Linked DNA regions of Homo sapiens. The protein of the gene in region 1 interacts with the protein of each later gene in a pairwise test. Each region holds a gene or a part of one and is shown in the gene's direction. Other genes may lie near its edges.

The links.
Region 2: the proteins of cystathionine beta-synthase (region 1) and PRKAG1 interact in binary tests that used the Homo sapiens proteins (3 or more experiments, as listed by UniProt).
Region 3: the proteins of cystathionine beta-synthase (region 1) and GAL interact in binary tests that used the Homo sapiens proteins (3 or more experiments, as listed by UniProt).
Region 4: the proteins of cystathionine beta-synthase (region 1) and UBASH3A interact in binary tests that used the Homo sapiens proteins (3 or more experiments, as listed by UniProt).

What each region holds. Positions count from the first base shown.
Region 1 is NC_000021.9:6,444,317-6,450,667, reverse strand, and holds the end of cystathionine beta-synthase, read left to right. Parts: intron 1-21; coding exon 22-156; intron 157-582; exon of another isoform or gene 583-699; intron 700-736; coding exon 737-845; intron 846-2,102; coding exon 2,103-2,187; intron 2,188-2,890; coding exon of another isoform or gene 2,891-2,932; intron 2,933-5,006; coding exon 5,007-5,110; 3' UTR 5,111-5,799; downstream 5,800-6,351. UniProt on the Homo sapiens protein: Hydro-lyase catalyzing the first step of the transsulfuration pathway, where the hydroxyl group of L-serine is displaced by L-homocysteine in a beta-replacement reaction to form L-cystathionine, the precursor of L-cysteine.
Region 2 is NC_000012.12:49,008,758-49,015,963, reverse strand, and holds part of PRKAG1 (5'-AMP-activated protein kinase subunit gamma-1), read left to right. Parts: intron 1-2,853; coding exon 2,854-2,902; intron 2,903-6,574; exon of another isoform or gene 6,575-6,655; intron 6,656-7,206. UniProt on the Homo sapiens protein: AMP/ATP-binding subunit of AMP-activated protein kinase (AMPK), an energy sensor protein kinase that plays a key role in regulating cellular energy metabolism.
Region 3 is NC_000011.10:68,679,576-68,687,706, forward strand, and holds the start of GAL (galanin peptides preproprotein), read left to right. Parts: upstream 1-4,968; 5' UTR 4,969-5,157; intron 5,158-5,348; coding exon 5,349-5,429; intron 5,430-6,018; coding exon 6,019-6,073; intron 6,074-8,131. UniProt on the Homo sapiens protein: Endocrine hormone of the central and peripheral nervous systems that binds and activates the G protein-coupled receptors GALR1, GALR2, and GALR3.
Region 4 is NC_000021.9:42,406,902-42,414,107, forward strand, and holds part of UBASH3A (ubiquitin-associated and SH3 domain-containing protein A), read left to right. Parts: intron 1-2,520; coding exon 2,521-2,707; intron 2,708-6,122; coding exon 6,123-6,321; intron 6,322-6,508; coding exon 6,509-6,622; intron 6,623-6,657; exon of another isoform or gene 6,658-7,206. UniProt on the Homo sapiens protein: Interferes with CBL-mediated down-regulation and degradation of receptor-type tyrosine kinases. Promotes accumulation of activated target receptors, such as T-cell receptors, EGFR and PDGFRB, on the cell surface.

The sequences.
Region 1 (6,351 bases):
CGACCTGCCCTCTTCCCTCAGGTGGTGGCACCTCCGTGTTCAGGAGCTGGGCCTGTCAGCCCCGCTGACCGTGCTCCCGACCATCACCTGTGGGCACACCATCGAGATCCTCCGGGAGAAGGGCTTCGACCAGGCGCCCGTGGTGGATGAGGCGGGGTCAGTCTCAGCCCCTGCTCAGAGCTCAGTCCTGGGTTCTGTCTGCCCAGCTCCACCCCGTCAGTGTCACTGGACAGGGCAGCCATGCAGACCCTGCAGCTGGGCTGATAGGCCCGCCTGGGCCGCCTCATACAGACGTTCAGGGCATTGGAGGCCCCTTGCCGGTCCCTGAGCAGCCTGGGGCAGGGCTGCCGTGCTCACTCCAGGCCCTCAGACCTCAGCCCACCCACCCTTTGTGTGCAGGCTGTCCTGGGCCCACCTGGAGGTCAGGGGAGAGATGCCCCGAGGACATGTCTGACAGCAGAAAGCCTTGGCACACATGCCCAGTGACCACTGAGAGCCCCACGTCGCGGAAACCTGACGGCTGGTCACCCTTGACCCTGGCTGAACGGGTCCAAGGACTCTTGGTTTCTTTCTCCCCACCAGGGCCCAGACTGGTTCCTGCCGCGTGTAGGCTCGTGGCAGAGGACTTCCATGTGTGGCCAGAGAGCGCTCCTCCCTGGGGCAGCTGAGCGTGTGCCCCACCGTCCTGGGAGGGGTGAGGTATGAGCGCTGACCCCTGCCTGCCCCCGTCCCACAGGGTAATCCTGGGAATGGTGACGCTTGGGAACATGCTCTCGTCCCTGCTTGCCGGGAAGGTGCAGCCGTCAGACCAAGTTGGCAAAGTCATCTACAAGCAGTTCAAACAGGTACCCAGTCACCTACAGGCAGCTCAAACAGATGCGCAGTCACCTACAGGCAGCTCAAACAGGTGCCCGGTCACCTACACGCAGCTCAAACAGGTGCGCGGTCACCTACAGGCAGCTCAAACAGGTGAGCGGTCACCTACAGGCAGCTCAAACAGGTACCCGGTCACCTACAGGCAGCTCAAACAGGTGCGCGGTCAGCTACAGGCAGCTCAAGCGGGTGCGCGGTCACCTACAGGCAGCTCAAACGGGTGCCCAGTCACCTACAGGCAGCTCAAACGGGTGCCCGGTCACCTACAGGCAGCTCAAACGGGTGCCCGGTCACCTACAGGCAGCTCAAACGGGTGCGCGGTCACCTACAGGCAGCTCAAACGGGTGCCCAGTCACCTACAGGCAGCTCAAACAGGTGCGCGGTCACCTACAGGCAGCTCAAACAGGTGCCCGGTCAGCTACAGGCAGCTCAAACAGGTGCGCGGTCACCTACACGCAGTTCAAACAGGTGCGCAGTCACCTACACGCGGCTCAAACAGGTACTCAGGCACTTCGGGACCCCAGAGGGTGCCAGAGTACTCCAGCCTCGAAGGCGGGACACCGCGCTTCCCGTGTGGGGGTGCTGGGTCCTCGACCCTCAACACCACTTAGGCCGAAGCTGGCTGCACCCCTCAAACCATGAAGCTGAGAAGCACCCACTTTACAAGTGCAGCAGCCGGAGAGGAGGCTCTCATCAGTGCAGGCTCATCCACACCAGCCGTGTTTTGGGGACTTAAGGAGGTCATTCGCGCTCAGAGGCTGTCCCGGGCACCATGCGGCGTCTGCTGGGGTCTTTCTCCTGCCCAGCCTCATTTGCCTGTGCATGCACTTGGTTATCCAACAAGAGCTAGAACATTCTGGGAGAAGCCCACGGTGGCTCCTTGCCGGGCTGGTCAGACTCCGTGGTTGTCCTGAGACACCCACCCTCTGCTGCCCTGAGGGTGGCCCAGGAAAGTTTGTGTGACCTTCCACACGGATCCCCTGGGACATGCAGGTGTGGCTCTTGACACTGGAAAGGCTGAGGGTTCTGCCCAAACCTAGGAGTGAATTCGACTTCTTTCCCATCTCACACACACACCCGAGACGTCACCCGAATCCACGTATTTCCCACGTTCGGCTGCCACTGCCTCCCGGGTGGGCTTTGCAGGACCCACCATCGCATCCCCTCTCACTCCACAGAAAACTCGTGGGGCCATGTTCCCCCTGCCACTGACCACGCTTCCCTTGCAGATCCGCCTCACGGACACGCTGGGCAGGCTCTCGCACATCCTGGAGATGGACCACTTCGCCCTGGTGGTGCACGAGCAGATCCAGTGTGAGTGGGGCCCTGCTCTGTGCGTGGGGTTCTCACTGGGGTCAGGCCACCAAGCCTGGCCTCTGCCATGGGCAGCAGCTGGGCCCCCCATCCCCTGCGGGGTGTTAGGGGAGTGGGTGGTGCCGACCTTCAGTGACACCCAGTCTTTATGCCCGGGCCTCCCACATGCCCTGGGCTGGTGGGCTGTACCTGTGATTCCTGCAGGGACCCCTCATCAGGCCACACTGGGTAGGGCCCTTTGTCCAGCATGCAGAGGCTCAGGAGTCCAGGCCCCTTGCCTCCGGGGAGGCCAGCAGTCTTGGGGATTCTCAGGGACAAGCCCAGAAACATCTAGAAGGGTTTCAAGTCCTGACCCTGGCATTCGGAGGGCTGCTCTGAATGGAAGCCTCATGTGGGTCTCACAGGAGCCACTGATGGGCTGTCCTCAGAGCCCCGCTCCCAGCAAGCTCATGAGGTTTTGCAACTCCTGAGCGCATCCCCGGGCGTCCCCACCACATCCCCACAGGCCAGGAGAGTCGCTCGCAGGTTTTGGGTCATAGATGGCAGCCCTGGGCCTGGGGCCCACAGGAAGAGTTGGGAGGGGCCCTGGAGCCTGGAGCCTGCCCACCCACCAGGCCTGTGTGCAGGGGGTGAGCGCTCGGTGGCTGAGGCTGGTCCGTGAGGGCCCCAAGTCTAACCCCATCTCCCGTCCTTGGCTCTGCAGCGCAGGACCAGGCCTGGGCAGGCGTGGTGGGGGGGCCTGCAGGTAGGTATCACCCACCCCTCAGAATGGCTCTCAGGCTCAGATTCACAGCCTCCCCATGGCAAATGGAGGCCTTCCAGGGTCCTGGACCCACCCCCAAGCTTGGGTAGGAGGGATCCCCCTCTTAATCTCACATTTACTTGTGTTTGAACATCTCAGAAAAAAAAAAAGATGCAAATTCCAATGTCAGGGTCCCCAAATCAAGTCTTCCTGGAGCATGTCCACGCTTGTCACCACCGTCTGTGGCTGCTTTCAAGCACGTCAGGGCTGCGTGCTCATAACAGAGACGGCACAGCCCCCAAGACCTAAAATACCACCAGCTGGCCCTTGTCGGAAAGTCCCCTGGCTGGCCCTAGTCCATTGACTCTGGGCCGAGCTGCCAGGGCCACAGAAGCCTGCGGCACTCAGGGCTCCCAGGGCTCCCTTCTCCAACAGTTGCTGTGCCTCCGTTTCCCCAAAATGCAAGGAGCTGATCTCATCTGTGTTCCCTATCTTTTCCTGGGGCTCTAAGTGGGCCACCCCAAGGGACCTCTGCCTACAAAGAGAGGAGTGACAGCCGTGGCGGAGTTGGGACGGGCTCCGAGGGCTCTTCCTCACCCGCACCTTGCTCACCCCTCTGTGCCTCATGACAGCTGGTGTAGGGTCCTGTGGAGACGCAGGACCAAGAGGATGTGTGGGGAGCGGGGAGAGAGAGGGAACGAGATCTGTGTTAAGGAACTGGATCATGAGATCACGGAGGCTGACAAACCCTGAGATCTGCAGGGTGAGGCGGCAGGCCGGAGACTGGAGAGCCAGCAGTTCAAGCCCCAAGGCAGGAAATTCCACCTTTGGTTCTATTCAGGCCTTCAACTGCTTGGGTGAGGCCCTCCACAGTAGCACACGTTATCTGCCTCTTGACTCTTGTGCTAATCCGGAATCCCCTCACACATGCCCAGAACGACGTGTGACCAATGCCTGGGCTCCCACGGCCCCGTTAATCTGTATTAAAATTAACCATCACAACAGCCCTGTCTGGGTATGTGGCATGGGAGCCTCGGCCAGCATTAACACCGGGTCTACGCTTGCCAGGAGAAAGCAGGAGGGGTGAAGACAGAATCAGGCCAGAGATGGAAGCTGTGTGCTGCCCATGGTGGCAAGGGGTTTTTGTCTGTTTTTAGAGACAGGGTCTTGCTCTGTTGCCGACTGGAGTGCAGTAGTGCCATCATAGCTCGCTGCAGCCTCGACCTGCTGTGCTCAACTGATCCTTCTGCCTCAGTCTCCCAAGTAGCTGGGACCACAAGCGTGTGCCACCATGCTCGACTAATTTATTTTTAAAAATATTCTGTAGAGACAGGGTCTCAATATGTTGCCCAGGCTGGTCCCAGACTTCCGGGCTTAAATGATCCTCCCACCTTGGCCTCCCACAGCGCTGGGATCACAGGTGTGAGCCACTGTGCCCGGCCCTGTAAGCGGGTTTGAATTTCATGCCCACACCGGCTCTGAAGTCATGAGTGCCTCAGGAGCTCAGCCGGTGGGCCAGGGAAGGGTGTGTCCTGACCTGCGGTGGGTGGAGCCTGGCCTGGGGCCCAGGGGACTCACGTGGTGGGTAGAACCTGGCCTGGGGGCTCATGGGGCTCATGTCAGAAGAACACTGGCTTGGCCAGGCACAGTGGCTCACGCCTGTAATCCCAGCACTTTGGGAGCCGAGGCAAGTGGATCACTTGAGGTCAGGAGTTCAAGGCCAGCCTGGCCAACATGGCAAAACCCCATCTCTACTAAAAATACAAAAATTAGCTGGGTGTGGTGATGTGCACCTGAAGTCCCAGATACTCGGGAGTCTGAGGCACGAGAATCACTTGAACCCAGGAGGTGGAGGTTGCAGTGAGCCAAGACTGCACCACTGCACTCCAGCCTAGGGGACAGAGTGAGGCCCTGTCTCAGAAAAAAAAAAAGGAACACAGCCTTCGCCGCTGGGCTCCAGCCACCCTGGGCCCCCATGGTGCACAGGTGCCCCAGGCCCTCAGGAGCCTCCTGCCCCGCAGCAGCCCACCCAGCCTCCCACGGCACCTGCAAACCCACTGCCTCGTTCTCCCCTCAGACCACAGCACCGGGAAGTCCAGTCAGCGGCAGATGGTGTTCGGGGTGGTCACCGCCATTGACTTGCTGAACTTCGTGGCCGCCCAGGAGCGGGACCAGAAGTGAAGTCCGGAGCGCTGGGCGGTGCGGAGCGGGCCCGCCACCCTTGCCCACTTCTCCTTCGCTTTCCTGAGCCCTAAACACACGCGTGATTGGTAACTGCCTGGCCTGGCACCGTTATCCCTGCACACGGCACAGAGCATCCGTCTCCCCTCGTTAACACATGGCTTCCTAAATGGCCCTGTTTACGGCCTATGAGATGAAATATGTGATTTTCTCTAATGTAACTTCCTCTTAGGATGTTTCACCAAGGAAATATTGAGAGAGAAGTCGGCCAGGTAGGATGAACACAGGCAATGACTGCGCAGAGTGGATTAAAGGCAAAAGAGAGAAGAGTCCAGGAAGGGGCGGGGAGAAGCCTGGGTGGCTCAGCATCCTCCACGGGCTGCGCCGTCTGCTCGGGGCTGAGCTGGCGGGAGCAGTTTGCGTGTTTGGGTTTTTTAATTGAGATGAAATTCAAATAACCTAAAAATCAATCACTTGAAAGTGAACAATCAGCGGCATTTAGTACATCCAGAAAGTTGTGTAGGCACCACCTCTGTCACGTTCTGGAACATTCTGTCATCACCCCGTGAAGCAATCATTTCCCCTCCCGTCTTCCTCCTCCCCTGGCAACTGCTGATCGACTTTGTGTCTCTGTTGTCTAAAATAGGTTTTCCCTGTTCTGGACATTTCATATAAATGGAATCACACAATTGTGGCCTCGTGTCTAACTTATTTCACTTTGCATGGTATTTTCAGGCATGTCAGAGCACGTGTACTTGGTTTCTTTTTGTGGCCGAATAATAAGCCATTGTGTGGATAGACCACATTTTGGTTCCTCATTTATCGGTGATGGACACCTGGTTGTTTCTGCTTTTCAGCCCTTGTGAGTAACCTGCTGTGCACCTTCATGGCCGAGTATGTCTGGACACCTCTTTTCACTTTTCTTGGGTGTGTACCCAGGAGTGGCATTGCTGGTTAATGTGGTAACTCCATGTTTAATTTTTTTTTTTTTTTTTTTTTGAGATGGAGTCTTGCTCTGTTGCCAGGCTGGAGTACAATGGCACAATCTCGGCTCACTGCAACCTCCACCTCCTGGGTTCAAGCGATTCTCCTGCCTCAGCCTCCCGAGTAGCCAGGATTACAAGTGTGCACCACTGTGCCTGGCTAATTTTTGTATTTTTGTAGAGACAGGGTTTTACCATGTTGGCCAGGCTGGTCTTGAACTCCTGACCTCAGGTGATCCACCTGCCTCAGCCTCCCAA
Region 2 (7,206 bases), on another chromosome or scaffold:
AAAAAAAAAAAAAAAGGTAGAAAGGAGTAGATGTAATTACATAATCCCCCCTCTGATATGGTGAAACAGGCAGAAAGTTAAAAGTCACGGCCAGGCTCGGTGGCGCATACCTGTAATCCCAGCACTTTGGGAGGCCGAGGCGGGTGGATCACGAGGTCAGGAGTTTAAGACCAGCCTGGCCAACATAGTGAAACCCCGTCTCTACTAAAAATACAAAAAAAAACTTAGCTGGGCGTGGTGGCAGGCATCTGTAGTCCCAGCTACTTGGGAGGCTGAGGCAGGAGAATCGCTTGAACCCCGGAGGCGGAGATTACAGTGAGCCAAGATCGCATCACTGCACTCCAGCCTGGGAGACACAGCGAGACTCTGCCCACCCGCCCAAAAAAAAAGTCACATATGCAGTTGTGTTTGACTCTCTTATGTTGGTATCTGTATCTCTAGTTAGCTCTATGTTTCTTTCCTCCCTCTGTAACTTAGTCTTGGGCATATCTGTTCATATCAGTGTGCATCATTCTTTGAGAATTAAAAAACAAAACAACTGTGAATTATATGCAAAACCCTGTGCTTGGTGGTATGGGAGATACAAAGTATAAGATAGTTCTAGGTTTCCAGGAATTTATAATCTGTTTGGATAGATAATGAACAAAATAACTGTAGCACAGTACAGTATATATCATATGATGGGTAAATTCTACAGAAGTAGCTGTTTTTGTGCCTTTGTGTAGATCTTTGTGAGACTCTGATATATCATGTGTCTATCTTTATCACAGCCCTCTCTCCCACTTATAAGTGATGAGGCTGTTGTTCTGATAGTCTTGCCAAAATGGCAGGCCAAGCTGACAGTCTTATGCAGTCCAGTGGGAAGAGGGAGATTATCCCCCTTACTCCCTGCACTCTCCCCTAGCCCATTAAGGGAGAAAAGTTTAGGGCTGTCTTAAACTTCCCTGGTTTAGGAAGTTTGTCAGCCAACCTCCCAGGTTGAAGTTTTTAATGTCATGTTACTACAGAAGCTATGGGGATGAAGTATGGTTTTATTTTGGAGATATCACCCAGAGAAAATGGAGCCAAGACTGTTGATGCTAGCAGATGAAAATTGTTGTGATCCCTTCTGGGTTCCTAAATAACAATGGCATTTCCAAATGTTCCCACTTGAGGGAGCACAGAAATGGTTCTAAGTTTTGTCTAGTCAAAGCACTCTCTAATCTCAGACTATCTTGGGAAGGGAAACTTGGAAAACCAGCATCCCCTGGCTATAGCAGCCTTTGACTCACAAGGGTGCTGAGTGGACTCAAGTTCCCAGTTTCAGTACATTCGTGTTCCTTATCCACCTCTCAGTCATTCAGGTTTTGACTGGCTGACAGTCAGCTACTGGGATCCTCCCCAGTTGTGGCTCTCTCTCTGCCATGGAGCTAGACAATGGTGGAACCAGTGTCTGTGGTTCTAGTGCCTACAACTATGCCTAGTGAGTGTCTGTGTTTGGGGAAGACAATGCTGTCTCTCTGGCTTCCATGTTTTAATAAAGTAGATCTGTGAGAATCTTGTAGGGGTTAGCCCTAAGCTCAGATCTTTAGTCTTAGCTTTTAGGACCTAGTGTTTCATTAGGCAGTATAGTGTACAAGAACATGAGCTTTGCAGATAATGCTCGTTCAGCTCAGAAGTGGATAGAAGCATTTCTGGAAGGCACAATATTGTAGCAGTATTGGTTTCTTCTCTTCTGTGATTCCAGAGAGGTAGAATTTCATCAGAATGGAGTAAATACATTCAAAAATTTTATAAAAATGGCCGGGCGTGGTGGCTCATGCCTGTAATCCCAGCACTTTGTGAGGCTGAGGCGGGCAGATCAGTTGAGGTCAGGAGTTTGAGACCAGCCTGGCCAACATGGTAAAACCCCATCTCTGTTATAAATATGAAAATTAGGTGGGTGTGGTGGTGCACGCCTGTAATTCCAGCTCTCAGGAGGCTGAGGCACGGGAATTGCTTGAACCCAGGAGGAGGCAGTTGCAGTGAGCCAAGATCACGCCACTGCACTCCAGCCTGGGCAACAGAGCAAGACTCTGCCTCAAAACAAAACAAACAAAAAAATTTACAAAAATGAACACTGCCAAGATAAACCCAACCAAACTCTTCATCAGTTATAAGAAATTATTTTGTTAGGTATACGTAGTTTTTTAAAAATTTGTTTTTTCAAGTATGTTATTTATTAAAATTTTGATGTAAACAAAAGCAAACCACAAGCTCTGGAACCAGAAGATAGGTGTTTGAATGCCTACTCCACCCCTTATCAGCCATGTGACCTTGGGCAAGTTGCTTAATGTCTCTTGACCCTCAGAGACAATCTGTGAAAATAAGGCTAATAATAGTATTTACCTCAGGGTTGTTATGAAGATTAAATGAGATCATATTTCTGAAGAGCCTTATAAGGCTGGGTGCAGTAACTCGTGCCTGTAATCGTAGTGCTTTGAGAGGCCAAGGAGGGCAATCACTTGAGCCCAGGAGTTCAAGACCAGCCTGGGCAACATGGCAAAACTCCATCTCTACTAAAAATACAAAAATTAGCTGGGTATAGTGGCTTGCACCTGTAGTCCCAGCTACTCAGGAGGCTGAGGTGAGAGAGGATCACCTGACCCCGAGGAGGTCAAGGCTGAAGTGAGCTGTGATCACACCACTGCACTGCAGCCTGGGTGACAGAGCGAGACCTTGTCTCAAAAACAAAAAAAAAAGGGTTTGGCGGGGGCAGTGGCTTTATAGTGCTTTAAAGAAAGTCATTATTTGTTCACCAGCCCTTCCCCTAATGTTGCTAGGCTAAAATGGATGGAACCAGGTTAAGCTGAATCTGTTTTCTTATCTCTCCAGGTCATTTCTTCAGATAGCTCCCCAGCTGTGGAAAATGAGCATCCTCAAGGTAAGTTTACTGAAGAAAGGAAACTGGGCATGAAAACAATAGCCTGACCCTAACAATGTCTTCAACAATGCTTTTGAATCTCTCCCCTGGAAAAATCAAAGCAGGGCCAGATAATGTGCCAAACCACAAAAATCAGTGACAGTAGTTTGGCAAGATCACCCAGGAATAAATCTTGGGCAGAGTGGGGATGATTAATATCTTCAATTATCAAACCACTTGAGAGAAACATCTGAGGTACAGGCAAAACTTCCATAGGCAACTCTGGGCTGGCTACCATGTTTTAGAAGTCCTGGGTATTTTCTGCATAGTCCAGAAACAGTGCTACCAGGATTTTATCACCCAGCAAGCTCACTAAAGCCACTGAATGTACACCAAAAATTATGCAAAGGGCTTGGTGCAGTGGCTTACACCTGTAATCCCAGCACTTTGGGAGGCCGAGGCAGGTGGATCACTTGAGCTCAGGAGTTTGAGACCAGCCTGACCAACCTGGTGAAACCCTGTCTCTACTAAAAATACAAAATCAGCCAGGTGTGGTGGCGCATGCCTGTAATCCCAGCTACTTGGGAGGCTGAAGCACAATTGCCTGAACCAGGGAGGCAGAAATTGCAGTGAGCCAAGATCGTGCCATTGCACTCCAGCCTGGGCAACAAGAGTGAAACTTCGTCTCAGAAAAAAAAAAAAAAGAAAGAAAAAAATTAGGAAAAGGCTCTTAGAACTAATCTAGTAATAGAAGCACTAAACCTCTAAAATCCAGAGCACAGGGAAGACAGTTCCAATGCTGGCCAGTGCCTATTTTATGTTTCTGAGTACATTTGCATTAGCACCAAGGCAGAAACTAGAAACTCAAATTGCCTACATGGACCAAGCAGTGAAGTGAACTACATATGAAAAGAAGGCGACAGCTGGGCCGGGCATGGTGATTCATGACTGTATTCCCAGCACTTTGGGAGGCCAAGGTGGGTGGATCACCTAAGGTCAGAAGTTGAAGACCAGCCTGGCCAACATCGTGAAATCTTGTCTCTACTAAAAATAAAAAATTAGCTGGGCGTGGAGCTGCATGCCTGTAATCCCAGCTACTCGGGAGGCTGAGGCAGGAGAATTTTTAGAACCTGGGAGGCAGAGGTTGCAGTGAGCCGAGACTGTGCCACTACACCCCAGCCTGGGCGACAGCACAAGACTCTGTCTCAAAAAACTAAAGGCAGCTGGGTGTGGTGGCTCACGCCTGTAATCCCACCACATTGGGAGGCCAAGGCAGGTGGATCACCTGAGGTCACAAGTTACAGACCAGTCTGATCAACATGGTGGAACCCCATCTCTACTAAGTAGAAAAAATTAGCTGGGCTTGATGGTGGGCGCCTATAATCCCAGCTGCTTGGGAGGCTGAGGCAGGAGAATCACAGAATCGCTTGAACCTGGGAGGCAGATTTTGTTGCAGTGAGCCGAGATCATGCCATTGTACTCCAGCCTGGGCAACAAAAGTGAAACTCCGTCTCAAAAAAAAAAAAAGGCGACAACTATCTAGGTCTGGTCAACTAAGACCTATTTTTGCCAGATCTTCAAGTCTGGGCACAGTGTAACACCAGCACTTTGAGAGGCCAAGGCAGGAGGATCACTTGAGCTCAGGAGTTCGAAACCAGCCTGGATAACTTAGTGAGACCCTGTCTCTACAAAAAATTAAAAATTTTTTGCACTCCAGCCTGGGCAGAGAGTGAGATCCTGTCTCAATTATAAACAAACAAACACTGAGAAAGCCAAATCCAATATGTTTATGGGCCTGTGGCCTGAATGATAGTATTTAACTATCAATGTAGTGTATGTATCTTCAACTGGTGTCCAAAGACATGTTCTTGGGAGTCTGAATTCTCAAGTTTGAATAACAATGGTAGGCTTCCAGTTAAAGACGGTAGATTGGTAGATTGGGCTGCGCGTAGTGGCTCATGCTTGTAATCCCAGCACTTTGGGAGGCTGAGGCGGGTGGATCACTTGAGAACAAGAGTTTGAGACCAGCCTGGCCAACATGGTGAAACCCCGTCTCTACTAAAAATATAAAAATTAGCCAGGCATGGTGACATGTGCCGTAATCCCAGCTACTTGGGAGGCTGAGGCATGAGAATCGCTTGAACTCAGGAGGAGGAGGTTGCAGTGAGTGGAGATCGCACCACTGCACTCCAGCTTGGGTGACAGAGCAAGACTCTGTCTCAAAAAAAAAAAAAGGTGGTACATTGAATATATATTCCCAAAAACTCCCCTAAAACCACCATAAAGGAATTTTTTTAAAGAAAAAGACACAAACACACCATAGGGAAAACAGGAGAGGAGATAATAGCAATGAATTTTTGGAAGCTGAAAAGCAGACAAAAGAGTGATGAATGACTTAGACCTGAGAAAACTGAATTATAACTAGCAGTGAGGAAAGCCAAGAAGCATTGAAGGTCTAAGAAACAGTCAGATCCCAAGACACCCTACCCCATTGAGTACAGTGGGCAACTCTGCCTCCCAACTGTGGCAGAGACTGGAAATCTGGCAAGGGACTCGGGCACAGCTTAGGGCTGAAGTACTGCACTGAAAACAGGAGCATGTAGTGAACTATACTCGATGCTGAGCCTCCAGCCCTTTCCCCCTTTTCAGTTTCCAGAGCGCTGGCAGAAGAGCCTTCACCCTCCAAGCATGAAATTGAATAATCCTTCTCTCCAGAATCCTCTTGAAGGGAAGTCCTAAAATATATAAGTATTGAATGTTCCCTATCCAAATGACTCACTGTCAGCAAGGCTCACTTACACACTTAGAGCTTCCACTCAGCTTTAAAGCCTCCACTCTTAAGTTATGGTTTAAGTTCTCCTTTAAACTAGGGATTACCAAACATCTAAAGAAAGGATCTGTGAAAAAAAGTGATCCAAACTGCCCCCCACCCCACTCTGGAATGTACCTTTGTTTTACTCTGAAGGCTGTATCTCCCTGGTAAAAAATAAATAAAAATGAAAAAGCAAACTGCCTCTCCCAACCTCATGTACACACAGAAGAAACAAACAGGAAAAAAGCAACTGGAAGGAAAAGATGAGAAGAAAACTTTAATAACATTAATATAATCTTAGATAAAGGAACATATTTCTCAATACCTGTGAAAGTAGTATATCTTTAAAGAAAACAACAGCCGGGCACGGTGGCTCACGCCTGTAATCCCAGCACTTTGGGAGGCCGAGGCAGGCAGATCACCTGAGGTCAGGAGTTTGAGACCAGCCTGCCCAATATGATGAAACCCTGTCTGTACTAAAAATACAAAAATTAGCTGGGCATGGTGGCATGTACCTGTAATCCCAGATACTCGGGAGGCTGAGACAGGAGAATCGCTTGAACCCAGGAGGTGGAGGTTGCTGTGAGCCGAGATTGCACCATTGCACTCCAGCCTGGGCAACAAGAGTGAAACTCTGTCTCAAAAAAACAAAAACAACAACAACAAAAAACCTTATTTCCACCATGAAACAAGTATAGGATACAATTTTTTAAAGAAGGAATTTTCAGAAAACAAAAAGGAACTCTTGGAAATTAAAAATATAGTAGCAAAAATTTAAACCCAGCTGGAGGTTTCAAAAATCAACATGAGGAAATTTCCCAGAAAGGAGAGTTAAAAATCAACAAAGTAGAAAATAGGAGAGAAGGTGCAGTGGCTCATACCTGTAATCCCAGCACTTTGGGAGACTGAGGCGGGAGGCCAGGAGTTCAAGACCAGCTCAGCAACACAGCAAGACCCTGTCTCTACAAAAAAATAAAAATTAGCCAGGCATAGTGGCATACACTTGTAGTCCCAGCTACTCAGGAGGCTGAGATAGGAGAATTGCTTGAGCCCAGAAGGTCAAGGCTGCAGGTGAGCCATGATCTCGCCATTGTACTCCAGCCTGGGTAACAGAATGAAAGCCTGTCTCTTTAAAAAAAAAAAAAAAAAAGGAGAGGAAAGATTCCAACAACCCACAAAACAAACAAACATTTAAAGGATCAGTCTAGGAGGTCCAGTATCTAAATAGGAGTCATAGAAAAAGAAAAATGGCAACACAGAGGGAAGGAAATAATTGAGGAACTAATTCAAGAACATTTATTGGAACTTGAGGACATTAGTTTTCATATTGAAAGGACCCATCGAATATTCAGCACAATGGATGAAAGTGACCCACCCAAAGCACAGTCATCCTGAGATTTCAGAACACTGGAAACAGAGATCCTATGAGTTTTCAGAGAGAGGAAAAAAAAGTCACATACAAAAAGTCAGAATTGCCTTGGACTCTCAACAACACCAGCAGCTAGCAGGCAAT
Region 3 (8,131 bases), on another chromosome or scaffold:
TGGGCCATTGGCTTAAATAAGAGAGATGCTTCTTCTCCTCTGTTGTGAAACAAGCCTGGAAGTGTGCAGCCCAGGGACCAGGCTCAGGGTCACTGGGACCCAGGCTCCCTCGGCCTTGATGTGTCACCTGAAGCCATCACCTCATGGTCCAAATTCGTTGCCCACCTCCAGCCTTCACGTCCACACTCCAGGCAGCAGGAAGAAGGAATGGAAAAGGACCAAAAAGGGGGCGTACCCATGTAACCCCCTCCACCTGGAGTGTGCTGGACCTCATTCTGTACCCAGTCAGTCCTGCTCACCTGTCAGGTTCAGCTCCCCTAATCCATGCATCTCCTTCCCACGACAATGGGGTGGTTATTTGTACAATAACCATTTGTTGCATACAGTTGGCCCTCCATGTCCACAGTGGGTTGGTTCCAGGAAACCCCTGGCCACGCAAATACCGAAATCCGTGGATGCTCAAGTCCCTTATATAAAATGGCATAGTATTTGCATATAACCTACGCACATCTTCCCATATGCTTTATTTTTAATTTAACTTTTTTATTTTTGAGATGAAGTCTCACTCTGTCACCCAGATGCTGGAGTGCAGTGGCGCCGTTTCGGCTCACTGCAACCTCTGCCTCCCGGGTTCAGTTGTACAAGTGATTCTCCTGCCTCAGCGTCCCGAGTAGCTGGGATTACAGATGTCCGCCACCACATCTGGCTGAGTTTTTGTATATGTAGTAGAGAGAGGGTTTTGGCATGTTGGCCAGGCTGGTCTCGAACTCCTGACCTCAAGTGATCTGCCCGCCTCGGCCTCCCAAAGTGTTGTGATTACAGGCATAAGCCACCGCGATGGCCCTCCCACATGCTTTAAATCATCTCTAGATTACTTATAATACTGAGTATAATGTAAATGCTACATGAATAGTTGTTATACCGTATTGTTTAGGAAATAATGACAAGGAAAAAAGTCTGTACGTATTCGTACAGAGAAACCCATCCTAGGCCTACCTACAAGGACCCAGTCCATAGTGGGTTGAACCCACAGCCAGGGAACTCACAGATACAGAGGGGCCAACTGTAATGGGTCTCCGTGAGGGTCTAACTCCGCAAGGGCAGGGACCCTGCTGCTGATTTCACCACTGCAGCTCCACTGCCAGGCAATGGACGGTTGAGCTCCCGTGCAGTGGGCATGGCCCAGGTGACCCTTGACCCTTGCTTGAGTTCTCAGCTTCAGGGTGGTTTTTCCTGGTGGTGGACAGCGCTTCTAAGGAAGATGGGCTGGCTCGAAGGCAGCGGGGGACATCAGGCTTTCTGCTTGATTTCGATTACTCTAATGGTGACCCACTTTGTCTGCTGCACACTGGGCTGTCTTCAAGATGACAGGTTGACAATGACTGCCATTGGGTCATTACTGAGCAAAGAGCCATTAGCACACTGGCTGTGGTTCCAGCACAGTCTGTGCCGGGAGGCAGGTGTCTGTCATCCCAGGTGTGCTGGCCTCATTTGTCTGAAGGAATCTGCCGACCTCAGGAAACCCCAGCACGCCTTCAGGCCACTGCCTTGCTTGTCTGTAGCCTTCCCATGGTCACCGCACTTCCGGGCCAGGGTCCCAGCCAGGGTTTATACCGAGACCCACTCACCCAGACTAAGCGGGAAGCAAGACGGTGGGTGTCATCCCACGTGGAAAAAGAACTTAGGGACCTGGAGGAATCAGGCATGGGCATGTTTATTTTGAATACATGTGTCTAATTATTCAATGGAGCTTTCTTAAATGAATTCAAAATACATGTGAAGATTTGTTTCCAGTTGCTTAATGTCTTTTTAATAAGGAGGCTCTGACCAGATAACCTACCCTGAAATTTCTTTTTCGTTTGTTTTTTGTTTTTTGTTTTTCGAGACGGAGTCTCGCTCTGTCACCCAGGCTGGAGTGCAGTGGCACGATCTAGGCTCACTGCAAGCTCCGCCTCCTGGGTTCACGCCATTCTCCTGCCTCAGCCTCCCAAATAGCTGGGACCACAGGCGCCTGCCACCACTCCCGGCTAATTTTTTGTATTTTTGGTAGAGACGGGGTTTCACCATGTTAGCCAGGATGGTCTCGATCTCCTGACCTTGTGATCCACCCGCCTTGGCCTCCCAAAGTGCTGGGATTACAGGCATGAGCCACCGCACCCGGCCTGAAATTTATTTTTCTTTTTTTCCTTTCTCTTTCCTCACTTTCCTTCCTTCTCTTTTCTTCTTCTCCTTCTCCTCCTCGTCCTCCTCCTTCTTCTTCTTCTTTCTTCTTCTTCCCTTCTCTCTCTCTCTCTCTCTCTCTCCCTCCCTCCCTCCTTCTTTCTTTCTTGACAGAGACTTGCTCTGTTGCCTATGCTGGAGTGCAGGCTTGATCGTGGCTCACTGTAGCCTCAACCTCCTGGGCTCAGGTGATCCTCCCACCTCAGCCTCCTGAGCTGAGTAGCTGGGACTACAGGCACGTGCCATCATGCTTGGCTGATTTTTAAAAAATATTTATTTATTTATTTTTAGTAGAGATGAGGCCTTGCTATGTTGCCCCAGCTGGTCTTGGACTCCAGGGCTCAAGTGATCTATCTACTCACCTCAGCCTCCCAAAATGCTGGGATTACAAGCGTGAGCCACTGCGCCCAGTCTGAAGTTTCTTTGAAAGCAAAAAAGGAAACAAAAAGAGTACATAGGCCCAAATGAAGACAGCTGAAAGTTTAATGTACCTCAAATTCCAGCCCATGACTAAGGGATGGACTTTGAGTCTCTTTTCGAATCCATCTCAAGGATTTAGGTTTAGAGTTTGTGCTCCTTTAAACAGACTAAGAGCCTCTGTGACAAAGTAAATAGAGAAAATAAGTGTAGTCAAGCTCTGGCAGGATTTGGAAGGGGGCCTAACGTGGAAGAAAGGAGAAGGCTGGAATTGACTAAGATGTGCTATGCACTGGGCTGGATTTGTTCTCAGCAGAAAGCAAGAAAGAGCTCTGGGATGGTAGCAGGGCTCCCACTACCACCGGGGGCCAAAGGTTGCAGTATTTCTCAGGTAGCCAAGAGGCACCCATGAGCCCAGCCCCTGCCCACTCCCTGATGTCATCTAGACACAAGGACATGGGGCATGAGAGGACATCATTGTCACTTCTCTGCAGAGTCACAGGAACGTGCCCTCTGCTCCTCCGCCTCTCGGCTGTCCTTCTGCCCACGGCTGGCCCAGACTCTCATGGCGACTCACTGTCTCCCACGCCCCCACTCCCGGCAGGAAACCACTTCAGGGTTTACTGTGGGCTCCGAAATCAGCCTGTGAGTCCTAGTTAGGGTCCCCTGTGCCTGACTCTCCTCTCCCCAGGCTGCAAGAAATAGGGATGACCAGAAGTCAAACTGTGCCCTTGGGAACACCCCACCCCTCACCACTGTCGTGCCAGGAGTCTGTTCCTAAGACCCCTCCCCAAGTCCTGTCTCCTCCTCTTCCTCCCATAAACCACAGCAGACACTCAGCCACCAGGCTGCAGCCCTGCACCTTCTCCAGCAGCCGCTGGCCTTCGCCAGAGTTCTTGAAAGCCCAGTTGTCCTTCCCCAGCCACGTGGAGGCAGACGGATCTCTCCTGGGGGCAGCCTGTAGCTGTCTGTGCAAAGGTTCCCAAGACTAAAGTGTAGAGGACAGGTAAGATGACACTGTCATGATCATCATTCGTCCTGTGCCCTGTGGACATCAACCCACAGATGTGACATCAACCCATCTGATATTGAGCCCAGTGGGTGGGGAGATCCTAACCCAGCTGCTGCTGTTGAGGACTTGGGTGGTGTCTGGCCAGTGGGAGGGGAGGTCAGGCGAGTTTTCAGCAGATGACCCCGTGCTCTTCGGAAGCCCGGAGGTGCCACACTGTACAAGTGTGATGCCTGGGATCCTGTGCTCCCCTGATGCCTGGGAATGGGGTGAAGGAACAGCCTAGGCTTGGGTTCTCTCCTGGGTTGTTTCGGGACTTGGCCCCAGCTCAGGAAGGGTTTGTGGAGGAGCCAAGGAGGGCCTTGTTCCTGTGGGATGTCTTTGCCTTGGGCACAAGGACAGCCTCTTGCTGCTGCTCTGCCCACCGCCCACCCCTTGGCGGCCTCTGGGAGTCTGGGCTGCTCTCCCTCTGGACCTAACCAGTTGCCCAATGGCTGGACCTGCTTAAAGCTCCCTCTTACAACTGGACCAGGCAGCCAGGGGAGGCACTGAGAGGCCGAGCTTCTGAGCTGGTGCCTGTGGATGCTCGACGGTCCCGCAGCTCCCACAATGGGATGGCCAAGCAGACCCTGAGATCCACAGCCCCCCTTTAGTGAAACAGGAGGGAGGTCGCTGGGCACAGGGAGCCGGGAACGCCTGCCCTCCCCGCCATCGACGGCTCCCGAGGCCTGAACCTTCGCTCCAGCCCCAGCACAAGCCGGCCAGGGCGCAGGGCCAAGTGTTGCCCGCCATTCCCCGGGTACCCCATGACCTCCCAGCTGGGGCTGGCTCGGACTGAGGAGTCGTCCCTGCCCGTCACCCTCTGGGGTCTCCAGTGCTGCGGAGCTCAGCTGGCTTTTGCAGCGGTAGGGGCTGGGAGGAGAAGCTGCAGGGAGACCGCAGGCGTGGGACGTTGTGGGGGGTCAGGCTTGCTCTGGGGCTGGGACCCCGGGGGGAGCAGTGGGGTTGACGCCACAGCGATGACTTGGGCCACGGGTCTGGGGGCTCTCCCGCGGGGCGATTGGGCTCTGTCTTTCGGGATTAGGGTCTCTCCCACAGGGTTTGGGGTTCTCTCTGCAGATTTGGGGGAGTCTCTCCCGCGGGATGAGGGGGGGCTCTCCGCCGCACCCGCCTATGATGGCCCAGAGGACCCGAGCTCGGGTCACTCCCGTCGCCCTCGGGGCTCGGCGAGGGTGCAGGAGGCGGGCGCTGAGCCGGTGACGCGACTCCGGGCGGCTCCCGGGTGCGCCGCATATATAGCAGCGGCGGCGGTGGCGGCGGCCACACCGGGCGGCGGACACGTGGAGGGACCCGGCCCGCGCCTTCTGCCCCTGCTGCCGGCCGCGCCATGCGGTGAGCGCCCCAGGCCGCCAGAGCCCACCCGACCCGGCCCGACGCCCGGACCTGCCGCCCAGACCCGCCACCGCACCCGGACCCCGACGCTCCGAACCCGGGCGCAGCCGCAGCTCAAGGTACTACTGGCGCCGGGCCGACCCTGCGCCCCCGGGAGGCCTCCCCTTCGGCTTTCCTCTGCCCAGGGACGGTTCTGCCAGGGCCCTGGCCCGGCCGCCGCCTCTGCTCCTCCCCGCAGCCCCGGCACTCCTTGCCTCGGGGCGCAGCCCACTCCGGGTTCCGACCCGCCCGCCCTGTCCTTCCCTTCCAGATGGCCCGAGGCAGCGCCCTCCTGCTCGCCTCCCTCCTCCTCGCCGCGGCCCTTTCTGCCTCTGCGGGGCTCTGGTCGCCGGTAAGTGCGGGGCGCGTCTCCTCCGAGCGAAGGGGACATCAGAGCCGGCCGGGCGTGGAGGGCTTCCTGGAGGAGGCAGCCTCCGCCCTGCCCGCGGGGATGGGGGTGGAAAGTGGAAAGGCGGGCGCTGTCCTGGCTGCGGGCGTCGCGGGAAGGGTCCGGGGCTCCCTGGGATTCCCCCCGCGCGCTTCTCCGAGTGTATCAACAGCCCCGGGCTATAACCAGGCCGCCGGGAGAGCTCTGCGCTTCGGGTCAGCGCCTCGGGAAAGCGAGAAGCTCGCCCGTTCCGCAGGGCTTAGTTAGAATGGAGGGCTAGGAGCCACTGGCGTGGCCTCAGCGTCACTAAAGCAGGTGCAGTGCGCTGAGAGTGCGCGGGCTCAGGCCCTCAAGTGAAGTATTTCGTAAATAAAGTGGTTCCATTTTCATGTCAAATATAGCCGACTTAGGGGTAAACCTGGAATTTCGCGAGCTATCCAAAAGCACATGCATTGTTCTAAGTCCTCTGCCATGCCGGGAAAGCCTGGGTGCACCCATTCAGCATAGGCTCCAGGCACAGCCCTGGCATCTGATCCCCTTTTCTCCCTTCAAGGCCAAGGAAAAACGAGGCTGGACCCTGAACAGCGCGGGCTACCTGCTGGGCCCACGTAAGTGACTGACAGCATGGCCTCCCCACTCCTGACCCCACCTGCCCCTCGCTTTGAACCCTGGCTCCTGCCCCTCCGCCTGCGGCTGGGCAGACCCTCTGGCCTCCCTCTTGACCTCATTGCCCGTCTCCATTGCTCTGCACACTTGATCTGTGTACGGTTCTTTCCAGAAGCTTCTCCTGCCCCGGCTCTGCCGCCCTGTCCCGGGGTGAGATTCCCACCCTGGGCTTTGCTCAAGTTCTCCTGGGCTTTCCCGCCTTGCAGTCCTTACAGGCCCTGTTCTGGGCCTCTCCCCAGGCCCCCGGGTCTCCCAAAACACTCAACTCCTCGGCTTGCAGAGCACCCTAGGTCAGCGGACCCCAAATCCTGCCTCCCTCTTCCCTTTCTCCAAGCTCCACACGGGAATTGCCAGATCGCCTGAAGGCAGCCCAGACAGGCTCCCCTCAAAACAAGGTTCAGGTGACCCTGCCTGCCCAAGCCTGTGTCCCCTCCCTCTCCCTGTCCTGTTGTTGTCACCTGTGTCAGCGGTGTCCCCTGCTGCCTGAGGTGAGCCCTAGCCCTAGATGGGACACTGCAGGCTGACACCTCCCCGTGTCCGCCCCCGCCCCTGTCCCAGGCCTCTACTTTCTCCACATCCTTGGTCTGTGCAGCAATGCCTTCTGACTTTCCTCCAAAGGAGGGGACAAGAGGAGGCCTTGGTTCCCTCCTGTAACTCACCTTCCCCTCCACACCTCACCATCCACCTTAAAAGCCTCCCTGTACTGCCTTCTGCCAGAGGAAGGATGTGAACAGCACGCAGGGCCTATCTGAGCCCCGCGGAGCAGCAAATGGGGAGAATGGTGCTCTTCTCCCCATGCCAAGGAAAGCTGACTTAGTTCTCAGTCCCAGAGTCGAATACAGCTTCCTCCTCCTGCAGACGCTTGTTTATCGGGGTCACTCAGAGGACCCCCAGAGTCAGGCTTTAAGAAACAGACACGGGGATGACAGAGCCGCCTGAGGCCGCGTGCGGATCGGTCCAGGCTGTTCACCACAGAGCCTGCTGGTCTCTGTGCGGCCCTCTCATCCTCTCCCTGCCCATGGAGTGGCCTGACCTGCCTGAGGGTCGGCTGATTTCCTCAACCCTTTGCAACCCTGAGCTCTGCCACTCAGAGGGCACCTCATCTTTGTGTGCTACGGGCCCAAAACAAAGGCAGAACTGGTCAATGAGAACATTTATCTGTGTTGCTTTGGAATATTGAAAATCTATTTGTCAAGAAGAGTTTGACCCCTAATTAGAAAACAAACTCATTTTCGCCATCAATTTTACGGCCCTGTTCAGCTGTAGCTAGACGAGTTGTTTGTCAAAATACTTAAAAATGTGCCTTTGATTTCTAGGATCTGCTAGAAATGCAGCAAAAGCAATGTTTTTGCACCAGCTGCTGCTGAACGCAGTGTGGCCGTGGCTGAGGGTGCATCAGTGACATGAGGCGACCTATGATTCCTCTATAAATTTAGCACCAAGAACGGCATCTCTGGAAATACGCGTTAATTCTCCTTTGTCTGGCCTTGTAGATGGCACAGTCCACCCAGGCCAACCAGCTGGAAACACAGAGGCGTCCTCACCCTCGTCCCCATCTCTCATTTCCATTTCCTTTCCTGCACAGCCCCAAATCCAGCCCTCCTCTTCACCCCACGCCTCTTGGTTTACAGCCTTCATCGTTTCTTCCCTGGAATTCTGGGATCTCTGTGCTTGCAATCACAGTTCCTCCATTTTCGCACCACGAAACACACCCACACACACACGGGAACGCACACACGCTCCTGCACCCCCCACCCCCATCCTGTCTCCCTCTGTGACCCTCTCGCTCCCTCTGTCTCTCTCCTTCTCTCTCTCTGGCTCCAGTCCATCTTGCACACAGCTGCCAGAGTGAAAATAAAAATCAGATTCAGTCACAACTTAAACTCTTCAGCGTCCCCCATGCTTTCAGGGACATGAGGACCCAGCTCCTGTTGTCTGCCAGGGAGTCACCCAGTTTGATGCCAGCTCAGTGCCAGCTCAGATGCCAGCTCCTCTGGACC
Region 4 (7,206 bases), about 36 Mb from region 1:
ATTGATGGAAAGATTTGAGACATAATTGACATCTTTGCTGATAGAGACTAGCGGCCACCATGCTCTCGGGCTGCCTCTGAGGGGAAGGGAGTTTACTGGTGGTCATGAAGCCAGGTGTGTGGGTCTAAGGGTGCCAGGTGTGTGGGTCGGGTGAGGGCTCTGATTTGAGGTGACCTCACCAGGTACCAGCTGCGTGAGTGATTCTTCAAGCCACCCACTGCCATGGGCCTGTTCTCTGCTCTGGGGATGGAGAGGAGGGCCACCGTTTCTCTAAAACCCTCTCCTACCCGGATGTGCTGTGGGGAGTCCTTCATCCTCTGCCCTGAGATAGCCACGGGGAAAATCAAACAATAAAAACCAGGTCCTGGGAGGCTGGAGTGTCCTCTCCAAAGCAGGAGGGCAGATACTGATCCTGGGTCTCTGAACGTGCAGTGTTCCCAATGGGATGCCCCCTCCTCCTCCAGAAAGTGTAGGCCACGGGCAAAATGGGCAACCCCTTCACAGAGTCCACTAAAGCCAGTTGCCAATTTTGGATCAGAAACAAGCCCACTGCTGTGAAGGGCATGGCCAGCACCTGCCCACTGCAACCCAGTCAATAAGACTAGGAACCCCACCAAAAAATAGGGAGGCAATGGGGTCCCCTAGACTGTCAAGAGCACCCCAACCTCTCACTAGTAACCAGGGAGGTGGTGCAAATTAAGATATCATTAGAGCAAACAAGGTAACTCCAAGTGTTGATGAGGGTGAGGGAAGCAGGGCCTCACACGTCACTGGTGTCACTGAGGAAGGCAGTGCTGGGTATCTGCCAACCTTGGCAATATGCACAGCCCACCAGCCTCCGTCGTGCGTCTAAGCAGATTCCCTGGAGAAATGCAAGGAGCCTAAAGAGACATGTACAAAGATCTTGATTGCAGGGTTATGAAATGGTTTTAAAATAAAATAATTTAGATGTTCATCAATGCGGGAATGAACAAGTGCAACATTGTATATGTATACATGAACTATTACACAGCCTTTAACAAATTCGCGCTGACAAACTTCACTAGACACGTGTGTATCAACAGGGATTAATTGAAAAGACATGGTAGAGGAAAAATGCCAGTTGTAGAATAATTTGAATAACAGCTTATGATTTATGTAAAACAAGTGCTATCTATAAGTCCGTTACTTAAATTTCTGGGAGAAGGCAAAGCAGCTTCACCCTCTGGGTGAACCCTGGAAAGGGGGAGGGTGGGAACCACGATGGAGAGGAGTGGCAACTTCTTCTGTGATTTTTATTGAAGAGAATATGGTCTTGCGTAAGTTCTGTTTCCTCTAGTGATTGAATACTACTTTCTAAATTGAAAATTATATCACAGGCACTTTGCTGAGTAATTAGAAATTCTTCCAAACCATGATTTCTAATGAATGCACGGTAAATAGATTTGCTATCAGTTATGGAGTTTTTCTTCTTTCTTCTAAATAACCCTAAATAACCTTCTAACTTTCTTCTAAATAGCCCTAAATAGATGGTTCATGTGCAAAGTTTTGCCTATACAGTACTTTGTGCTCTTTCCTCGGGAGAAATTTCTGGAAGTAGAATTATTAATGCAAAGAGTGTGGGCATTTTAAGACTCTCAATACCTATTGGCAAATTGCTTCACATAAAAGTTGAAAGGTCTGTCCTTAAGTCCTGCTGCATCTTTTACACATTGAGCAGAACTTTTATCCTTTTTATTGAAAAAATCTTTGTGAACTTGACAGATGAGAAAAATGCCGTCTCGGAGCTATTTTATTTCCATTTTTATTGTTAGTGACAATGAACTCCTATGTTGGGTCATCCGTCGTTTTTCCTTTAATTTAAAATAACTGTCTGCCTGAAATCCCAGCCAGTCAGGAGGCTGAGGCAGGAAAATTGCTTGAACCGGAGAGGTGGAGGTTGCAGTGAGCTGAGATTGTGCCACTGCACTCCAGCCTGGGTGACAGAGAAAGACTCCATCTCAAAAATAAAATAAAATAAAATAAAATAAAATAAAATAAAATAAAATAAAATAAAATAAAATAAAATAAAAACTGTCTGAATCTAAAGAAACGCAGCAGCTACCTAAATTTTGTCTAGGTTTTTGGTTTTGGTTTTTATATGTAATTTGAAGTTTGAGGTAAAATACAAATGTGAGGTTTTTCCACAAAATTTTCCCACACCATCAAGGAGATGCTGGGCCCACGGATCATTGGAAGACCAGGTTTTAGGTCTTGCTGTCAACTTTCTTTCATTTTTTCTACCTTTGACTTTGGAATCAGACTAAGGTGGGTCTGAGAGCAGGACTTACACTGACCAGGTCTGTGCCACACACAGCTGTGCCGCAGTGCCTCCCACCAGTAGGATGGCTGTGAGATTAATTTATGTCATGAGCATATATGATGTCTTCAGTGTGCCCTATAATTCTGCATTGCTGTCATTGTCATTCTGTTGTGTATCCTCAAAGGGGAAAACTCTTTTTGTTGTGACAGTGGGTGATGCCGGCTTGCTCTCTGTTGCAGGCTGCATGATCATTGCAATGACCCTTCCCTAGACGACCCCATCCCCCAGGAGTATGCCCTTTTCCTCTGTCCAACGGGGCCCCTGCTGGAAAAACTTCAAGAGTTCTGGAGAGAGAGCAAGCGCCAGTGTGCAAAGAACAGAGCTCATGAGGTCTTCCCACACGTGACACTCTGTGACTTCTTCACGGTGAGTCAACCCAGTGTGCCTTCAATGCTCACGGCAGCTGGAGGCATTTTTCTGTGCTAACTAGGCCATGATGGGACAAAGTTGACTTATTTAAATGGGATAGTCCAGAACTGCATCATTAGCTGGCACCTTCATATGAGCTGTCCTTTATTTTCCTCTTTGCCTTCATCTGGTCAACTCCTATTAATCCTTCAGAACCCAACTCATTTATCCTCTCCCCTTTTTGAGTCTTCTCCAGCTCCCCAGGCAAAAGGAGTTGCTGCCCATTTTCTCGTTCATGTGTCTAGTGGCACTTTTGTATCATACGGGCCATGTGTCTGGTGCAGCACCGCATCCCTCACCAGACCGAGTCCCTCAAGGGAAGGCAGATACCTCACTCATCTTTGCACCCCCAGAAACTAGCACAGCCCCTAAAACAGAGTTTGTGCTTCCAAAATGTGTGGTAAGTCAACTCAAGGATGGGTGATTGTTGGCTACCCACAAATGCAGAACTTTTCCCTGTCTCAGGGACCAGCCGTCTGATTCAGAAAAAAAATGGCCCAGTGGGTAGCTCCACAGCAAAACACAATGGCCCAGCAGGCAGCTCTACAGGGGCACCGGGAAGACAAGAAGAATGTGGGAGCTGCTCAGGAGAAAAGAAGGAGAAGGGAGAGACAGACAGCCACTGCTCTACTCAGCTCCGCCAGAGGGGCTTAAGGAAGGGCACACCCACTTCTGCTACCGCGGCCTGGCCCCAACTCTGCTGTTGGCAAACTGATTTGTTCCACCCATTTCAAGGAATTCCATCAGGGCCCAAGGAACCCTCCATTCCAACACCAGGCCCCTCGGTGCTGGATGGAAAGGAGGAATGCAAACCTCTGAAGGGAAAAGATTTCTGGAAGATGTCCCAGGAGAAGCAGTACCTTCCAAAGCCTCCAACCACCACCCCGGATTGCCCGAGACTTGCAGGGATCCCCAGAGCACAAGACTAAACCTGGAAAAGCCCCAGAAAAATCGAGAGAGTTTTCCCCCTACATCGACATCAATGGTACTTGTGACAAGCTGACTCCCTTCTGGTTCACCCTCTGGAGCCAACGGGGAAAGGCAAGGCAGCCCAAGCCATGTGACACAGCTCAGAAATCAGAGCAGGCCTTGGCCCCCCACTCCTTCCCCAGCCCACTGAGGTGCAAGCACACACACACACACACAGATAGACACAGAGACACACACATAGCTCACACACATAGACACACACAGATTGACACAGAGACTTACACATGCACACAGATACACACACATACATGCATACAGACATACATAGATATAGACACACAGACACACACAGATAGACACAGAGACGTACACACGGCACACACAGATACACACACATACATGCATACAGACATACATAGATATAGACACACAGACACACACAGACATGGAGACGTACACACGGCACACACAGATACACACACATACATGCATACAGACACACACAGAGACACAGATACACACAGACACACACAGATAGACACAGAGACGTACACAGCACACACAGATACACACACATACCTGCATACAGACATACATAGATATAGACACACAGACACACACATATATACATGCATACATGGATACAGACATACACAGACACACACAGATAGACACACATACACACTACATGTACATAGGTACACATGCAAACAGATACACACAGATATACACACACAGGAATACACAGATACATGCACATAGACACACACAGACACACACAGAGACACACATTAGATAGACACACATGCACAAACACAGACATGCACATACATGCACATACATAGACAAATGCACACATACAGACACACACATAAGCACCACATGCACACATATGCACACAGATACACACATGCATACACACAGACACACATATAGACATACGCAGACACACAGACACACATAGACATACGCATATGCAGACACACACACAGACACACACACATATAGACATATGCAGACACAAACACACTCACACACCTCCCTCTGTCGTTAGCTCCTCCCAGTCCCCCACCCCAGTTCTGGCCTGGCCGTGGTTAGTGGAGCTCCCCTCACAGGCAGAAGAGTGTAACGGAGACTCACTGTGTACCTTGATGCTGTAAAATGAAAACACTAATCTTCCGAAGTGTGATATTGATCACAGCTACACTTATAACATGACTATTCTTGAAAATTACATATCTGAGGCCAAGAAACACAATGTGAGACGGATTCAGGAATGGACATGTGTTCACTGGGTGGTTTTGTGTTGAGTGCCGTTGAGGGTTGCAGAGAAAACAGACAGGGAGGAATGTCAGGCCGGCCTGTCCATGGGGAGACGGAAGCTGCATTAAACACTGTGATCTGGCCTCATACTTGGGCTTGTAAGAAGCACTGTGGGAAATTCCGAGGGCAGCCCGGTGCTGGGAAGAGAAGGGATCAGGCCAACTCCCGCCAGGAGGGTGTGGTGTCTGGGTTTCCCCTGTGGTCCGATGTGGCCAATGGCACTGGGAAGGTTTTCAAGCCCAGGAAGCAGCCTCCCCAGGGCGGTAGGCAACACCGAGCCCAGATGTCAGGAGAGGCTGCGTCTGGCTGGAGGATGGGGGTGGGAGCCCCGTGGGCAAGGCTGTCGGGCCAGCACCTGTCGGGCTCCGTGGGCCTGAGGGATTCTCCAGGTGACAGAGAGCCTGCGGCCTCAGGGGTGGGAGCTGCATCAGAAAGAGGGTCCTGCAGCCACTCAGGGGGCATCAGGGAGGCCGGGCCAGGGGCTGTGCAGGCTCAGGTCCTCCAGGGAGCAGACCCCAAGGCAGAATTCCCAGTGCAGGAGACGCACAGGGGAGAGACTGCTGGTGAAGGCAAAAGAGGAGGAGAGGGTTGGAGGCAGGCAGAGCCTCAGTGCCTTAGAGGAGTCCCTGTGGAACCCGACTCAGTGCTCAGCCGTGGAAGAGAGGGTGGCCCCGCAGCTGGAAGTGCAGCTGAGTCCCGCTCACTACAGGCTCTGAGCAGTGCCTGGGCAGCCTTGGAGTCTGCTAGAAACCTCCAGAAGCCAAATCATGCAAACCTGAGCAAAGCAGTGTGCCATGGGACTGAGGAAAGGGCCTGGCAGGTGATGAGCACGTGCCATGGAGGGAGGGGATGCAGTTCAACGACCAGGGGATTTCCAACCTGGGCACCTAAAGGAGACTCCAACCTGCAAAGAAACTTACCTGAAATATTTGAAAAAACCGAGGTCCAGGTATAGAACAAATCCATAACCCCAGACACAAAGGGACGCAATAAATTATGTTACAGCGCTTTGAACAGAAAAGAATCTCACTTTAATTGCTGCCTGATTGTTATTAATTAAATTAATAGATGACTTCTGATGAGAGGTGTGGAAACACAGGCTCTGTCTCTGTCCCCTTAGTGTGAAGACCAGAAGGTGGAATGCCTGTACGAGGCGCTGAAGAGAGCTGGAGACAGGCTCCTGGGCTCCTTCCCCACGGCCGTGCCTCTGGCTCTCCACTCCTCCATCAGCTACCTCGGCTTCTTCGTCAGTGGCAGCCCCGCAGACGTCATCCGGGAATTCGCCATGACCTTCGCCACGGAAGCATCTCTCTTAGCAGGTGGGCAGCCCTGGCCAGTTGCAAACACAGGGCTGGATTCACAGTGAGTGAGCCCTCTGTGGCAGGGACTAGCCCCCGGCACATGGATGCAGTGGGTGGGTTCCAGGGGAGCAGAGCCCAGCAGCAATGGTGGGATGGCTGGGTGGGCTTTCTTCCGGGCTCAGTGGCTGCACCTGTCCTCACCCAGGCACTTCCGTTTCCCGCTTCTGGATTTTCAGCCAGGTGCCTGGACATGGCCCTAACCTGAGGCTGAGCAATTTAACTAGAGCCTCCTTCGTGAGCCACTACATCCTTCAAAAATGTAAGCCATTAGAAAGCTTCCGGACCAGCTTTGGTCTTCTCTTTAGGCGGGAATAGCCTTGTTCTCATTATGTGGTTTTTAAAATGCTTAGCTATATGCCAACAGCCTGGGAAAGTGCCCCAGAAGGGTGTGCCAAGCATCAAGCCTGAGTGGGTGACTGTGACGGGGTTGGAGGCTGGTGCACACAGGGAGTCAGGGCCTCCCCACCCCAGCCTTGAGTGGGAGACACACAAGTCCTACGTGACTTATTTCTGTATTTTCAGTATGAGCTTAGTGCTCTCTCCTTGGCCTCTCCAGGGAAAGATTATTTAGACTCATATTCAGAATCATCAAAATTCCCTTCTCTCCAAACACCAGCCCTGGCCTGGAGACCAAGGCTACCATTGGGGTTTAGTGGAAAGGATTGTGGACTTGACGTCAGAAGATGTGATTTTTTTCTGTGTCCCTGATGAGTGGCATGACCTTAATCAAGTCATGTCCACTCTCTCTGTCTCTTTTTCTTTCTCTACAAAACAATGAGGGCTCTCACTCTTCAAGAACAATGTTGCCTGAGTCTGTGGCCCATCCTGCCATAGTTCCCGGGA